Linked DNA regions of Homo sapiens. The protein of the gene in region 1 purifies or fractionates together with the protein of each later gene. This does not show direct contact. Each region holds a gene or a part of one and is shown in the gene's direction. Other genes may lie near its edges. The genes, in order: CYSTM1 and ARVCF.

What was found.
Region 2: the proteins of CYSTM1 (region 1) and ARVCF purify together in Homo sapiens (affinity purification with mass spectrometry; one large-scale study listed by BioGRID and IntAct). This does not show direct contact.

Annotation. Positions count from the first base shown.
Region 1 is NC_000005.10:140,181,634-140,185,448, forward strand, and holds part of CYSTM1 (cysteine-rich and transmembrane domain-containing protein 1), read left to right. Parts: intron 1-3,815.
Region 2 is NC_000022.11:20,006,607-20,010,421, reverse strand, and holds part of ARVCF (splicing regulator ARVCF), read left to right. Parts: intron 1-3,815. UniProt on the Homo sapiens protein: Contributes to the regulation of alternative splicing of pre-mRNAs.

The DNA of each region.
Region 1 (3,815 bases):
CACTGTGCCTGGTTAATTTTTTATTTATATTTCATAGAGATGGGGGTCTCACTATGTTGCCCAGGCTGGTCTCAAACTCCTGAGCTCAGGCAATCCTGCTGCATGAGCCACTGCACCTGCAAGAGCCACGGGGGCCACTGCCACTGCAAGATAGCAGGACCCCCGTCTGTATTTTTTGCTATGTTGACTAGGTCTTGCTATGTTGACTAGGCCATTCTTAAAGTCCTAGCCTCAAGGGATCCTCCTGCCTCAGCTTCCCAAAGTGCTGGGATCACAGGCGTGTGACACCACCTTCGGCCGGGTAGTTGTATTTAAAGGGAGGGTCTTGAAAGTAAACCCTAGTGTTTTTCACACTTCATTTGTGTTCCCCTGCATGATTTTTGTCTTATCTTTATGTCATCTGTACTGTTGTTTAACATTCTTCTTAAAGTTGACCCATTTTTTAAAACCCTAAAATTTGTTTAAAAGGGAAACGATATCATTGCCTTAAACTGATAACTACTACATCACCTGTCACAAATAGAAGGTATAAATTATTGAAGTTGTTTGTCCATGTTCCCCAAGTTCCACATATCCCACCTGGGGCAATACAGCCTTTACCCAAAGATATGACTCACTAATAGTGAGTTTTTCAGGCAGCAGTAGATGGGTGGTAGGATGGTTTGGAGTAGGCAGGCCTTCAGAGAGGGCCCCTTCAATCCTATCTTTTCCTAAAACTTGTGTGGTTCTATGATACTAGGAAGGCCACAGAATGAAGAATCTAGGAGGTAACAAGAGGTAAATGCAATGTGAAACCACTTCTGTTTTGATCTGAAGTTTGCCAAAAAGAGGCCTGAGTGGTGGTGAGGCTGTATACTATATTAAATTCTAGGCCCTCTGCCAGGGGTGTGGCTTCATTGATGCTGTGTTACATTGTTCTTTCTGTGCCAGCGTGCTCTTAGAAAACTCAGATTCTCCTGGGAAACTCAGATCTTTCTTGGGGGGCAGGAGGGATGCTTTTTTTTTTTTTAACTCATCAATAACCCAAACTACTTTGAGTTCCTTTCACATATAGAGAACTGTTTGTGGATGTTGCTAATGATAGAAACTGAAGTTATCATCTAGAATTTTTTTCCCCCAATCTTCATTGTCCGTAAAGCCTATTCCTTTAAGAATCCTATGAAAACAGAAGAAAGGGGGAGGGTGAGCTGCCCTGGGTTGTATGGTCTCTTAGGGTGCAGCACATGATAGGCATGAGTGGTACTTCCTGGTTTGATGTGAAATTCACTGTTGTCCATTAAGAGCCACCCCGCAGTGCTGACTGAGCTGCTGCTCCCTCAGAGGGTCAGGAGAGCGTGCTTTCATGATGGAGCAAAGCCAGGCTGGCTTGGTATTCATCAGGAACCAGGAGCGCTTAGTTAAATTGCCAGCACGTTAAGCTGTAGGGGCCTCTTTCTAAATCATCAAGATTTCAACTTTCCCACAAAGCCTAATCTAATGCTCTGGGAGGAGGCAGGCAGAGCCTGTCTTTCAGGGGCTGGGCTGGCAGGGGACCTGGCCTGGGAAGTGGCCTTATCAGGCTTGTTGGGAGGGATGGACCTGTCCCTTTCTAGTGTGTCCTCTCAACTTGGCAGGGGGCAGAGTTCTTCCCTTTTCTCTCTCTCCATGCCCTAACCGCTCCTTTCAATTCCCCAACTCACTTTCTGTGTTCACAGCTTTCTTCCCTTTTCCTTTCCCTTCTGTTCAATACTGCCCTCTCTTTTGAGCCTCTCTCTTGCTGGGCCCCATTTTCTCTCCATTCTCACTTTGAGGGTTGACTATTTGAAGTTCCAATTATAATGCTGTCCTATATGTCCCAGTGACTAGATGTAATTCAGAGATCCCTACCCTATTTTTCTGAGGAGAAGCCAACCTTCATTTCTCTACTGGCTTTCAGATAGCAGTGTTGGTGGGGTACTGACCAGAGTCCCTGAACTGAGTGGTTGGGTGAGGCTGGATGTGCTCCTCCCCGATATGGGGGTCCCAGCAGTATGGGGAAGGTATTATAATCAGGGTTTGCTGACAATGCCAGGATCCATTAGACAAGGGGCTGAGGCTTACCTGTGGGGACCCTTCCATAAGCTGAATGCAGAGGGGAATACTGCATCCAGGCAGTCCTCTAGCTTTTGCAGAGGACCATACATGATGAATGAAGGCTGGAGAAGGAGCCCTTGGGTGAGGTTAGCCTGGAACCCACAGGACTATTTGCAGCTGTGGATCCTGCCCTGAAGCTAGGTTTTCCCAGGTAGCAACTGGACCAAATTGTCTTCCCATGTGGTTAGATGGATTGTTGGAAGCATCTAGGAGCATGGCTTTCCTGCTTAATGAGTTAAAAAATTGATTATTTTCTTGTAAAAGCCATGTGGCTACTTTACCTAAAGATGATTAGCAAGGGTTTTAACTTTCATTGTTAAATATAACATATGTATAAAAAAGTATGTATAATGTACAGTTTAATCAATAATTGTATTCATTAGTGTAACTGTGTGATCTATTCAGGTTTAGAAATAGAAGTTTATTTTTAAACCCAAATGGGGTAATAGAATGCACTGTGTTGCAATTTGTTTTTTTCCCACCATGTTGGTGCTTTTTCATATCAGCACAGGTAGTTCTAACTTATTCTTCTGAAGCGTCATATAGCAGCAGTTCCATGGATTGGAAATACCATGGTTTATTTAACCATTCTCATATTGATGAACATTATATTTAATATATATGCATGTGTATAAAGTTGGGTTTTTTTTTTTTGGCATACCGGCTGGCACTAGTATATATCTGTAAGATAAATTCCTAAAGGTAGAATTGCTCGTTCAAAGGATAGGGTGTTTTTATGTATTTATTTGGGGTTTTACTTAAAAATATGTCTTTATTGAAGAGTTTATAAGAAAAAAGGATAGACCCGCTATAAAAAGAAAGGCTGTCTGCTCTAAACATTAGGGAGGAATGGGACACCAATACCTGGTGGCTAAGGATAGGTCATTTTAGTTGTTGATATTTTCAGGTAGTAATGTCTTTTTTCCCAGGAATGTTTATAAATGTTATATCTTACAGAGCACCAAGCCCTGGATCCAACTAGAGGTTCTTTACAGAAAGCTTTATGGAGAAAGGTTTTAGCAGATGATATGTTATCCTCTGTTGAAGGGAACTTCTCTGAATTCCCTCAGAAAGTCTCTAAGTCTGGAAGAATGCTAAAATGTACCTACCAAGTTTAGTATTGGAGGGAGACAAGATTGACTGTAGTCACATTTTCAAATAATTCTGAACTATGGATAATTAATGTAGGTATGGTATGACTTTTCAGAATTTGCTGTTCCTAATCTATCAGGACAAGTTGAGAATACTTACATCTTTGTGTTATCTTAATGTTGGGGATAGCGGCTTAAAGCAATTATCTGAATGGCATTAGCAAACTATGTTACTAAATAGTTTGTAGATTTTTAGCTTCATATGAACTCAGTTATAAAAGCAGTGTGTGGTTTTTGTATCAGATATTTTTTGTGAGAAAGGAAAATAAGACAGTCTCTGAACCTCTTCATCACTCTGGGCCAGGGCCTTCAGAGGTAGATGATCCATTGTTAGTTTTTGCCTTCCATGTGCACTTTGATGCCCTTGTTCAGCGAAAGGTCCCATATCTGAGCTGTGTATCATTTTGTACTCCATAGAGGGGCTATTGTGAAGCCACAGCCAAAATGTTGATACAAAAGATACGTTCTAATACTTATTCATTCATTGACTATATGAGAATAGCTCAGGGCCTGGTAAAACTCTGGCAAACAAGAGATATTGAATGAAGTAGG
Region 2 (3,815 bases), on another chromosome or scaffold:
CTCCCACATAGGACAGCAGAGTGTTCTGGTGGGCCTGGCGGGTGGGGGTGACAGGGATGGACTGGCCCTGGACACTGTGTGCTCCTGGTCCTTCTCACCCTGGGTAGGCACAGCCCCTGGGCTGGACAGGGTGGATGTGAGGGCCTCCTGCCACCAGCTTGGGTTTGTTACTGGCCTGAATATGGGCAGCAGCCACTGGTTTGATGTCTGGCTTTAGGGACAAGCCTGTTTGGGGCTGGCTGACGAGGTTGCTGGTCAGTGTTGGTTTGGACATTCACTGGGTCTGCTCTTCACCTGCCTGAGCTAGGATGCCAGCCGCAGTGGCATCCAGTATTGGCACAGCCTGCTGGGCCAGGCCATTCGCTTGCCCCCCAGAGACTGGAGCCACAGGGACAGAGGATAGTCCTGGAGGCCAGGCACACAAAACTTTGTTTGAAAAGGTCTGATAGTAAGTAATTCAATTTTGCAGGCCTTATGGTCTCTGTCACAGCTGCAGTTCTCTGCCATTGTAGGATGAAAATGGCTGCAGACAGCCCATAACTGAATAGTCTGAATGTACTCTGATCACAGCCGTAGGCCATGTGTACTGGCCCGTGGCCTCAGGTGTTATCTGTGTTTGGGGTTCCTCTGCTTATCATGGCTGCTAGCTCCAGTGGGACTGAGGCATAGCGCCTGGGAAGCATGGCAGGGTTGGAGGCTGAGTGGTCCATGTCCCCCAGGACCCTCTGAAGGATGGTAAGGCATACCCTGCTCACATCCACGCTGCCAGAGTTTTGCCACGATGGGTGCTGTTCAGCAGAGTGGGTGATGGCTTAAGAGAATGGCTCCTGGCCATTCTTGTTCCTCCAGTCCCCACCCTGGCCATCTGCCTGTCCCCCCAAAAAGCAGTCTCTGTGGGAGGCATGGCTGACAGCCCTGTGGTTTCTCAGTGACAATTAGTGCCCATTGTGGAGGCATGGCCCAGCCAGTGCTGTGCCTAAGTGGTAGGGAGAAGGCCATGGCCTCCGGATGCCTGAGTGACCTAGGCTGAGGGATCTAGGGCAGATGGGAGGGACAGGATGACTGACTCCTTGCCTGTTCCCAAGTCCTTGGGCATGGAAAGCTGCCGGCCGGGCCAGCCTAGTGGGAGCTGGGTCTGCTGCCGCCTGGCTGTGTGGGAGGACCAGCGTCTGGCCGAGAATGTCACTGCTCAGGCCATTTGGCCATGCAGGGTCTTCTGGGTTGGGACAAAGAAGCTCAGGCAGGGTACTTGGCTTGCTTGTGGCACAGGTGACAGGGCATCTCAGGGTGGCAGGAGGGGCTGTCCCACTGCCCTTAACTCCTCGTAGGTCACCACACTTCAGGGAGGCCAGGTCAGCCAGACACCAAACGACAGCCCTGGTAACAGGGTCCGCAGGAGGGTGGTTGGCTGGGCAGGTCCGAGGCTGCCCAGGCACACTTGCTCACTCTCCCTCCTGTTGCTTGCTCCTTTCTTGTCCCTTCTTTTCCCTCCCCCCTCCAGTTCTTGGTCTTCTCTATGTTTCTCTGTGGCCCTCTCTGTGCCTCTTTCTCTGCCTTTCCCCATCTCCTATCCTGCCCATCTGGAATGTGGTGATTGCTTATTCCTGTCTGCTGTGGTGATTGGTTTTTCATGTCTGCCCTGGGCACTGGTGCGATGGGTGATGGCATTTGTGCCATCTCTGCTCTGGCTTGGGCAACCTGGGCTCTGGCTTGCGGCTGCCTGCTCTGCTGGGCCCTGGGGTGTGGTCCTGTCCACAGCGGGAGGCAGCTGGGGAGGGAGCCTCAGGGCTCAGCTGGGACAGGGGCTGATGTAAACACCCATGTGTCACCACACTCAGCACCCACTCACCCAGCCTCATGCTGGGTCCTGGGCATCACAGGCACATCAGGCCCAGCCCTGCCCCTGAGGAGCTCCCAGCCTGGTTGAGGAGATCCACAACACACAGAGGAACCAGTGGCCAACTGTGGGGTTACAAGATGGTGATGAGTAGCATGGCTCCCTTAGGAGGGGGAGCTGGGAGGGTGTGATGGGGTGGTGCGTGCTGAGACCAGGCCTGAGTGAGAAGGGCTGGCGGGGACACAGATGCCCTGCCGTTTCCCATAGCTGGCCAGCAGTGGTGTCCTCTCAGAGACCAGCACCAGCCTGGCCTCCTCCATCAGCCGCCGTGTGCCTGCAGGGGGTTGCGGCTTCGTCTCCTGCGGCCGCCTGGCCCCTATGACAGGCCTTCTCTTGGGTTTTGATGTGTTTCTCAGCCATTGTATGAGTCTTTGTATATTAAAGATATTAATTCTTCACTCCTCTTTCTGCCTACTGCACATTTTTCTCACCCTTTTAGTTTTTGTTTATGATCATTTTGATGTCAAAAATGTTTCATATTTTGTGGTGAAGTGTGTTGGATTTTTCCCCATTTTTAGATATTCCGTCTCTCTGTGTAGTCAACTCTCCCTAGCATGCAGCCAGATAAAGATGCACCTGTCTTTTCTTCTAGAAGGTATTTTTACTTTAGTTTTGTACACAGCATTTAATCTGTCTGTCTTAGTCCATTTTGGGCTGCTGTATCAGAATACCTGAGACTGGCTAATTCCTGAAAAACAAAGACTTATTTCTAACAATTTTGGAGATGGGGAAGTCCAGGATTGAGGGGCCACATCTGGCGAGGGCCTTCTTTGTCGCTACATCCCCCAGGAGGTGGCAGAAGGGCAGGAGCACACGTGAGAGAGCGCTGAAGGAGGCGGAACCCATCCTTTTATCAGTAACCTGCTCCCGAGATAACAAATCCACTCCCACTGTAACGGAATTAATCCATTCATGTAGCAGAGCCCTTGTGACCTAAACACCTCTTAGAGGTCCTACCTTCAACACTGTTGCGTTGGGAATTAAGTTTCCAACACGTGAACTTTGGGGGACACGTTCAGCCCATAGCACAAACTAGTATTTATTCTGATGTAAATGGACGGCAAGGATTTAACTTTGTTTTTACAGCTGCATCTGAACTGTTTCCTTTTTGTTTGTTTGTTTTGAGACGGAGTCTCGCTCTGTCACCCAGACTGGGGTGCAGTGGCGCATTCTTGGCTCACTGCAACCTTCACCTCCCACGTTCAAGCAATTCTCCTGCCTCAACCTCCCGAGTAGCTGGGATTACAGGTGCCTGCCACCATCACCAGCTAATTTTTAAATTTTTTTTTTTAATAGAGATGGGATTTCACCATGTCCAGGCTGGTGTCGAACTCCTGACCTCAGGTGATCCTCCCGCCTCGGCCTCCCAAAGTGCTGGGATTACAGGTGTGAGCCACCGCTCCCGGCCATGCCTGGCTAATTTTTGTATTTTTTGTACAGACAGGGTTGTGCCATGTTGCCCAGGTTGGTCTCGAACTTCTGGGCCCCAGCAATCCACTTGCCTTGGCCTCCCAAAGTGCTGGGATTACAGGTGTGAGCCACTGCACCCAGCCTTAAATTTTTACCTTTGATATACTATTTATTTCAAAAGGGTAGGCCAGGCGCGGTGGCTCATGCTTGTAATCCCAGCACTTTGGGAGGCTGAGGCAGGCAGATCACGAGGTCAAGAGATCAAGACCATCCTGGTCAACATGGTGAAACCCCGTCTCTACTAAAAATACAAAAATTAGCTAGGCATGGTGGCACGCGCCTGTAGTCCCAGCTACTCGGGAGGCTGAGGCAGGAGAATCACTTGAACCCAGGAGGCGGAAGTTGCAGTGAGCCGAGATCGCGCCACTGCACTCTAGCCTGGCGACAGGGCAAGACTCCGTCTCAAAAAATAAATAAATAAAAGGGTATTATGCAATTTCTTACTTAT